2 separate regions of the Homo sapiens genome follow, and region 1 is reported to be linked to region 2. The links are microRNA targets in miRTarBase. Many come from high-throughput screens and were not tested one by one. Region 2 holds a microRNA gene; the other region holds the end of a gene's coding sequence.
The links. Region 2 holds the annotated microRNA hsa-miR-6806-3p (UGAAGCUCUGACAUUCCUGCAG, at 3,230-3,251, opposite strand). A microRNA usually pairs through its seed, bases 2 to 8, with sites in the 3' UTR of a target mRNA and lowers its output. Matches are read on the target gene's strand: a 7mer-m8 pairs with bases 2 to 8, a 7mer-A1 pairs with bases 2 to 7 and ends in A, and an 8mer does both.

Region 1: miRTarBase lists CDX1 as a target of hsa-miR-6806-3p. Seed matches in the 3' UTR shown: 7mer-A1 at 1,201-1,207.

What each region holds. Positions count from the first base shown.
Region 1 is chr5:150,183,267-150,186,266 of GRCh38, forward strand. CDX1 (caudal type homeobox 1) reads left to right here. Exons shown (of 3, transcript NM_001804.3): 3 at 208-1,292. The coding sequence ends at 414. Among named protein-coding and RNA genes, the nearest start is that of SLC6A7, 5.3 kb to the right of the region's middle. RefSeq lists an enhancer at 2,624-3,000.
Region 2 is chr19:58,332,657-58,337,980 of GRCh38, reverse strand. MIR6806 (microRNA 6806) reads right to left here and starts at 3,293; the gene lies at 3,230-3,293. ZSCAN22 (zinc finger and SCAN domain containing 22) reads right to left here. Exons shown (of 3, transcript NM_181846.3): 2 at 2,776-3,229. The coding sequence starts at 3,178.

The DNA.
Region 1 (3,000 bases), not on the chromosome of region 2:
ACAAAGAAGGGCATCTCCAGGGTAGGGGTGCAATGTCTAGAGGGGGAGAATGAATTCAGGGTCCATGTGGTCTGGGAGGCTGGAGAGGAGATAAGCCACAAAGCCACATGGAGAAATAGGGGCTCACTGTCCTCGTCTCTCCTTCTTGCACTCTCTCTTTCACTCTCTCCCTGCTGCCCACTCCATCTCTGTCCTCCAACCCCACAGGTGAAGATCTGGTTCCAAAACCGGCGGGCAAAGGAGCGCAAAGTGAACAAGAAGAAACAGCAGCAGCAACAGCCCCCACAGCCGCCGATGGCCCACGACATCACGGCCACCCCAGCCGGGCCATCCCTGGGGGGCCTGTGTCCCAGCAACACCAGCCTCCTGGCCACCTCCTCTCCAATGCCTGTGAAAGAGGAGTTTCTGCCATAGCCCCATGCCCAGCCTGTGCGCCGGGGGACCTGGGGACTCGGGTGCTGGGAGTGTGGCTCCTGTGGGCCCAGGAGGTCTGGTCCGAGTCTCAGCCCTGACCTTCTGGGACATGGTGGACAGTCACCTATCCACCCTCTGCATCCCCTTGGCCCATCTGTGCAGTAAGCCTGTTGGATAAAGACCTTCCAGCTCCTGTGTTCTAGACCTCTGGGGGATAAGGGAGTCCAGGGTGGATGATCTCAATCTCCCGTGGGCATCTCAAGCCCCAAATGGTTGGGGGAGGGGCCTAGACAAGGCTCCAGGCCCCACCTCCTCCTCCATACGTTCAGAGGTGCAGCTGGAGGCTGCTGTGGGGACCACACTGATCCTGGAGAAAAGGGATGGAGCTGAAAAAGATGGAATGCTTGCAGAGCATGACCTGAGGAGGGAGGAACGTGGTCAACTCACACCTGCCTCTTCCTGCAGCCTCACTTCTACCTGCCCCCATCATAAGGGCACTGAGCCCTTCCCAGGCTGGATACTAAGCACAAAGCCCATAGCACTGGGCTCTGATGGCTGCTCCACTGGGTTACAGAATCACAGCCCTCATGATCATTCTCAGTGAGGGCTCTGGATTGAGAGGGAGGCCCTGGGAGGAGAGAAGGGGGCAGAGTCTTCCCTACCAGGTTTCTACACCCCCGCCAGGCTGCCCATCAGGGCCCAGGGAGCCCCCAGAGGACTTTATTCGGACCAAGCAGAGCTCACAGCTGGACAGGTGTTGTATATAGAGTGGAATCTCTTGGATGCAGCTTCAAGAATAAATTTTTCTTCTCTTTTCAAAAATGTATAAAAATCATTATACATAGCATTAAAGAAACATTTTTGAGAAGTACAAATCATCCTCACCTTCCCCAGCAATTGTGTATTCCTTTCCCGTTTGTTTAGGCCCACAACAAGGTCACCTTTAAAATACATTTGAAAGATCAAAACAGAACACCATTCGTTTAGGTCTATGAGACTACGTAAAAATGTGAGTCCATTTTGTAAGCAGATTCATCAGACTCAACATATCAGTCTTTTGAATTTTTCAGATATGTTCAGTTCAGGTTTTTCTTTCAATAATGACATTCATTGCTCACCCCATGTGCTACGCGTGGCTGGGCCTGGGAAGCACACAGTCCTTGTCCCCTAGACTGGAGAAGGGGTGCGAGATCATGTCTTGGGAAGATGTGGAGGGGGAAGGTTACAGAGAAGGGCATCTCCAGGGTAGGAGAGCAAGATCTAGAGGGGGAGAATGCATTCAGAGTCCATGTGGTCTGGGCAGCTGGAGCAGGAGAGAAGCCACAAAGCCCCCCTCAGGGTCTGACTTCAGGGGTCCTGAATTGCTCTGCAGAAGTCCCCAGTCCAGTGGGGAAGACTGCTATGCACACAGATGACACTAATATAACAGGATAAGGGCCAATCTGAGCGTCAGGGGAGCCAGGGCATCCAACGAGAGCAGAGCACATGCCTAGCTTATCCTGGAAGGCTTCCTGGAGTAGGTAATGTTTGAACTGAGACTGAAAAGGACTAGCGAGTATGGATCAGGCCAAGAAGGGAATAAAGGAGAAAAGGAACTTGAGCAATATGGACTGAAAGTATAATTTTTTTTGAACTCGGGAGTCTACTACCCGGGGCCTTCTCTCCCCGGGGGCTCTGGTGCCAGCTGCCTGCCCCTCTGTTTACTGTTCTGGGAGGTGGCCAGGCCATAAAAAGTGTGCACAGCCTGCCTGACATCGCCCTTTGCTCCCATGATAACAGTGCACAAGGTGGATCCTGGCCTGGCACAGGCCCCTGAAGTGCAGCAGGCACTTCTCTCTCTCCTCCTACCAGTGGCCTGGGAGACAGCGGGCATTCATTAGTAATGGTGGACACCTGAGGCTTGGGAAAGAACCAGGGTTCCAAGAGTAGAGGGGGAGGGGCTGGTGAAAAGGCGGCTGGCCCGGACTGAATAGAGTTTTCTGATCTTCAAAAAAATATGCTCTGTGACCCTAGGGTAACTGCTTCCCCTCTTTGGGCCCGCATTGCCCCATCTGTAAACTTGGGGAAGTTGTCTACCAGAAAGAAATAACTCTGGTCAAGTAAGTTTGGGAAATCCTGCTGAAGCCACTTCTCTGATAGAGTCACAGTGGGCCATTAGCACATCAAAGTCTCTGACAAGCCCCACAGCAAAGAAACCCCTTGAATTTTCTTTCATCTGGCCTTCCCCGTGCTTTGCTACCTAGGAGGCCCCTACTCACACCTCCGAGCATCCCACTGAACTCCACACACTCTGCAGTGCTGGGATGTTCAGGCTGGAGGGCCTCACCTTCTCTGTGTCTCAGTATTTAGCAGCAGGTTTTGTCGTCAAATGGCCTGGATTTCAGCGTGACTACTTCCAAACTGCAAGACTTCAGGCAAGTTACTTAGCTTCTTGGAGCCTCGGCCTCCGCATGTGTCAAATGGAAATAAAATAGTCTAACTGAGCTTAGAATTGTGTTTCGCTCAGGGCCCAGCACATAAGAAGTGCCTGTTTTTGAGCCACCTGCTCACGGGGCTGCTGCTGCATCCCAGTGTGAGAGGCTGGCA
Region 2 (5,324 bases):
AAGAGGAGAAACCCTGATGTGGAACTGATCTGGAGACAGAGAGAGAGGGAGGGTCTGTCCTTGTCAGGACCCTGAGCACATGCACCCCTGCAGGCTCTGATCTCTGTGGGGTTGCAGTTCTGTCCCTCACACTCAACACCTTGCGTCTAGGCCTGGATGTGTCCCCTGCAGGCTCTGATCTCTGTGGGGTTGGAGTTCTGTCCCTCACACTCGACACCTTGCGTCTAGGCCTGGATGTGTCCCCTGCAGGCTCTGATCTCTGTGGGGTTGGAGTTCTGTCCCTCACACTCGACACCTTGCGTCTAGGCCTGGATGTGTCCCCTGCAGGCTCTGATCTCTGTGGGGTTGGAGTTCTGTCCCTCACACTCGACACCTTGCGTCTAGGCCTGGATGTGTCCCCTGCAGGCTCTGATCTCTGTGGGGTTGGAGTTCTGTCCCTCACACTCGACACCTTGCGTCTAGGCCTGGATGTGTCCCCTGCAGGCTCTGATCTCTGTGGGGTTGGAGTTCTGTCCCTCACACTCGACACCTTGCGTCTAGGCCTGGATGTGTCCCCTGCAGGCTCTGATCTCTGTGGGGTTGGAGTTCTGTCCCTCACACTCAACGCCTTGCGTCTAGGCCTGGATGTGTCCCCTGCAGGCTCTGATCTCTGTGAGGTTGCGGTTCTGTCCCTCACACTCAACACCTTGCCTCTAGGCCTGGATGTGTCCACAGGTGCTCAGTGAATTCTGGCTGAATGAGGGAATCCATCCAGAAGCCCACGATGGTGAAAATTTCTGCAAGTAGAACCCCAGGTAGAATATGGCTGCTGGGGGTGAGTACATGAGGTACCCATCTGGCCTCTCAAGCCCCTACATTGTAAAGTACTATGAAGGCAGAGTGTGGCGGAGGTGCTCTTGGAGATCAGAGTGTGCATGAGGTAGAGGAATGCTCGCACTGACCTGCCCTGCATGGGTGCAAAGGACACATAATCTGGCACATCTACTGGATGGATTCCAGGGAGGAGGCAGAGACAGGTGGAATACCCACTGCTCAAGTCCACAGTGGGGCTCAGCAGTGCAGAAACTGGACTCAAACCCCAGGTCTACCACCTTAATCAGTCCTGCCCTCATCTGGGACTCAGTCTCCCCATCTGTAAGCCATGGATGCTGTGCCGCTGGCCTTCCAGGGCCACTAACCACTATCAGGCTCTTGTCGTGCTGGGCCCCAAGCACAGTGGGTGACTTCCATCGCCTCATTTCAGCTTCGACCTGCTCTCAGAAGGAGGTACTGCTGTGATTCTGTTGCAGATGGGGAAACTGAAATCCAGCTGAGGGAAGGTGTTGAGTAACTGGTACAGGATCACAGTTAGCTAGTGGCCCAGTTGGGATTTCAGCTCCAGAATGTTCTCCTCCAGGTCCACAGGCAGTCTCCCCTGCTCCCCCAGCCATCTGCTTGGCCCTGTCTCCCCCTTCCTTCCTCTATCCAGAAACATCACACCACCTGCTTTTACCAGAATACACCAGTGCAAATCACACTGCCAGGCCTTTGACCCCACCATTCCCTCTGCATTTTACCCTTTCTCTGAGCTTTGGCCAACCCTGTGGGAGGATGGGGCCACTCCCTCCTTCCTCTCCCTGTCTCTGTGACATCTGCTTGGGCATAGACCAACCTCTGTTCCAGAGAGGCCTGTTTCTCCCAGAGCTGAACAAATTATCCTAACAGTTGCAGTTACCATTTATTTAATCTGTGCCAGGCACCATTTCAGGTGCTGCACGGGTATTGCCTTGTATCTCGCAACACCACTAAGGTGGGCGTTTTTATTACAATCCCCATTTTACCCATGAGTAAACTGAGGCACAAGGGAGTCACATGGCCAGGAAGAGCAGCAGCGGTTGGATCTACTGAGCCTTGATGATGCAGCTGTATCCAGACTCCACATTCCTCCTGCACACTGCACGTTTCCTCCCAGTGTGTGGTATGCCCACCTCCTATCTGTTGCCAATAGGCCAGGCCAAGCCCATCTGAGACGAGCCACCACTCCCTGCTCTGGATTGTCCCAAGGCTGGGTCTTCCCTGCATCCCACTGGACCTCCCTGGGTTGGGATGTTTGTGTGGGTCTCTGTGAGTAACAGTGCCCAGCTGAGCCTGGGGCAGGTCTGACCCACCCAAATCCTGGAGGCCAGCCCAGGGTGGGCATAGAGAAGGTACACAGGGACATCTGGTATTTCCGTCACCCCCAACAGCCACCCCAGGCACCCAGGCCCTCGTCTGGTTTCCTCTGAGAAACAGCCAGTTGCTCACTGTTAGTCCCTGGGATTTGGTTGGCCAAACACAAACATAAGATCCCAACCAGGCCAGTGGGGGCTCAGACCAGGGACCTCTTATTGTTATTACCCCGGGGTTTCTACATTGGTAAGACATAAGCCTGGGGTTCCTGGCTATCTTTAACCCCTTTGGAAAGAGAACCTAAAATAAGAATGAAGCTAACACAGAAAAAACCAACTGAGAAACAGAACAAGAGAGGAAGAAGAGAGTTCTGATGCTGTCAACAGATCTTCTGGATATAGCCGTATCTGCTGCCTCCTTACCCTTCTTTGCTTCAGCCCATTTCAGCTCGCTTTTGGTCACCTGCAACCAAAACACACCTGTCTACAACAGTGTGTGAGAGTTACGGTAAAGTACAAATGTGAGAATGGGTGCATGAGCAACCCCAAACCAGAGCCCTGTGCTCCCATGTTCCTGTCCAGGGTGTATCTCTGGTGTGCCGTGAAGCTGCCCACGGCGCCCCTTTACCTCTCTTGTCCAGCACCTGAGTCAGATCCTCCACCAGCACAGCGGCTTCCTCTCCGCTCTTGGGACTCTGGGCTCCCACCCAGGCTTGGATCTCTGGGGGCAGCGCACCCAGGAACTGCTCCAGCACCAGCAGCTCCAGTATCTGCTCCTTGGAGTGCGCCTCGGGCTGCAGCCACTGACAGCACAGCGCTCGGAGGTGGGCCAGGGCCTCGTGTGGACCAGATGCCTCCTCATAGCGGAAGTGCCGGAAGCGCAGGCGTGCAGCCTCAGAGTGAGCAATGTGGTCATGGCTGGATTCTCCGCCCTGGGAGAGGCTGGCTTCCTCTTCCTCCTCCACCTTCACTTGAAGGAAGCTGTCCTCTTCCCACGGCACTGGGCTCAGGGAGTGCTTGGGGATGGCCATCGGGCAGCAGTGCTCAGTGAGACACAGGATGCCGGAGCCTTGGAACTGGGCCTGCAGGAATGTCAGAGCTTCAGCATCACATGGAACCTGGGCCCTGCCTCATGCCTACAGAGCAGGGAAAACACAGGCTTGTGGCCCGTGAGATGTGAAAGACTCTCACAAAGACATAGACAATCCTCATAATTAGGACAGCACCCACTTGGTGCTGAGCACTGTTCTAAGCTACTACTGCTTGCATGTAGACTCATTTAAAACTTACAACAAACACCATCCTGGCTAACATGGTGAAACCCCGTCTCTACTAAAAATACAAAACAAATTAGCCAGACGTGGTGGCGGGCACCTGTGGTCCCAGCTACTCAGGAGGCTGAGGCAGGAGAATGGCGTGAACCCGGGAGGCGGAGCTTGCAGTGAGCCGAGACTACGCCACTGCACTCCAGCCTGCGCAACAGAACAAGACTCTGTCTCAAAACAAAAACAAACAAACAAAAAACTTACAACAAACTCAGGAGGTGGGACTTTCTACCTATTTTATGGATGGAAAAACAGACACTCAGGAGGAAAATATTTGCCCAAAGTCCCTCAGCTAGTGAAGGGTTAACAGAGAGCTAAGCTACAAACCCACGCAAACCTACAGCCAGCCTGTTTAAGGCGTGCTCCTCCCCAACAGAGCCAAGTCTTTCTCCCTCTGTTCCCCAGGTAGCCACATGGTCATTCTCTCACTTTACTTGCTAATTATTTTGTAGTGTTTGAGATTGATACATAATTGACTTTCGCCTTTCCTCTTTTCTAATGCACATATTTAAGGCTATAAATTTCTCTCTAAACACAGCTTTAGCTATACATCACAAGTTTGATATGTTGTATCTTCATTATCATTTAGTTAAAAATATTTTCTAATTTCTGTTACAATTTCTACCTTACTCATTAATTATTTTTTAAAATTTATTTTATTTTTTTGAGACGGAGTCTCCCTCTGTCGCCCAGGCTGGAGGGCAGTGACGCTATCTCGGCTCACTGCAACTCCGCCTCCCGGGTTCAAGCAATCCTCCTGCCTCAGCCTCCCAAGTAGCTGGAACTACAGGTGTGCACCACCATGTGAGGCTAATTTTTGTATTTTTAGTGGAGACGGGGTTTTGCCATGTTGGCGGGGCTGGTCTCGAACTCCTGACCTCAAGCGATCTGCCTGCCTCGGCCCCACAGAGTGCTGGGATTACAAGCATGAGTCACCATGCCCAGTCCCATTGGTTATTTATTTAAAACTCTCCTGCTTCATTGCCAAACAACTGGGGGTTTTCTAGTTGTCTTTTTATTACTGATGTCTAGATTAAGTCTGTTGTGGTCAGAAAACATGCTACAATGGATTTCGATCATTTAAAATTTGCTGAAACTTGGTTTGTGACCCAGTGTATGGTTAATTTTGGTTAATGTTCCATGAATACTTGAAAATAATGCAAAGCTGTCTTAGCTATGACACCAAAAGCATAAGTAACAAAAGAAAAAATAAATAAACTGGACTTTATCAAAATTAAAAGCTTTTGTGATTTGAAGGACCACATCAAGAAAGTAAAAAAGCAGCCCACAGAGTGGGAGAAAATATTTGCAAATCATATATTTGATAAGGGACCTGTATCTAGAACAACTCCATAGTAAAAAGATGAATAATACAATTTTAAAATGAGCAAAGAATGTGACTAGACATTTCTCCAAGGAAGATACACAAATGGGCAATAAATACATGAAAAGATGCTTAACATCACTAGCTACCAGGGAACTGCAAATGAAAACCACAATGAGATAGCACTTCACACCTGCTGGGATGCCTATAATCAGATAACATGTGTAGGCAAGGATATGGAGAAACTGTAATCCTCATATGCTGCTGCTGGGAATGTAAGATGGGATAGCCACTGTGGGAAGTACAGTCTGGGAGTTCCTCAAAAGCTTAAACAGAGTTACCCCATGACCTAGCAATTCTACTCCTACGTATAGACCCAAGAGAAATGAGTATATGTCCTCACAAAACTTTATACATAAATGTGCATAACAGCATTACTCATAACAGCAAAAAAGGAGAAACAATCCAAATGTCCACCTGATGAATGGATAAAATGCTGTATATACCTATAATGGAACACTATTCACC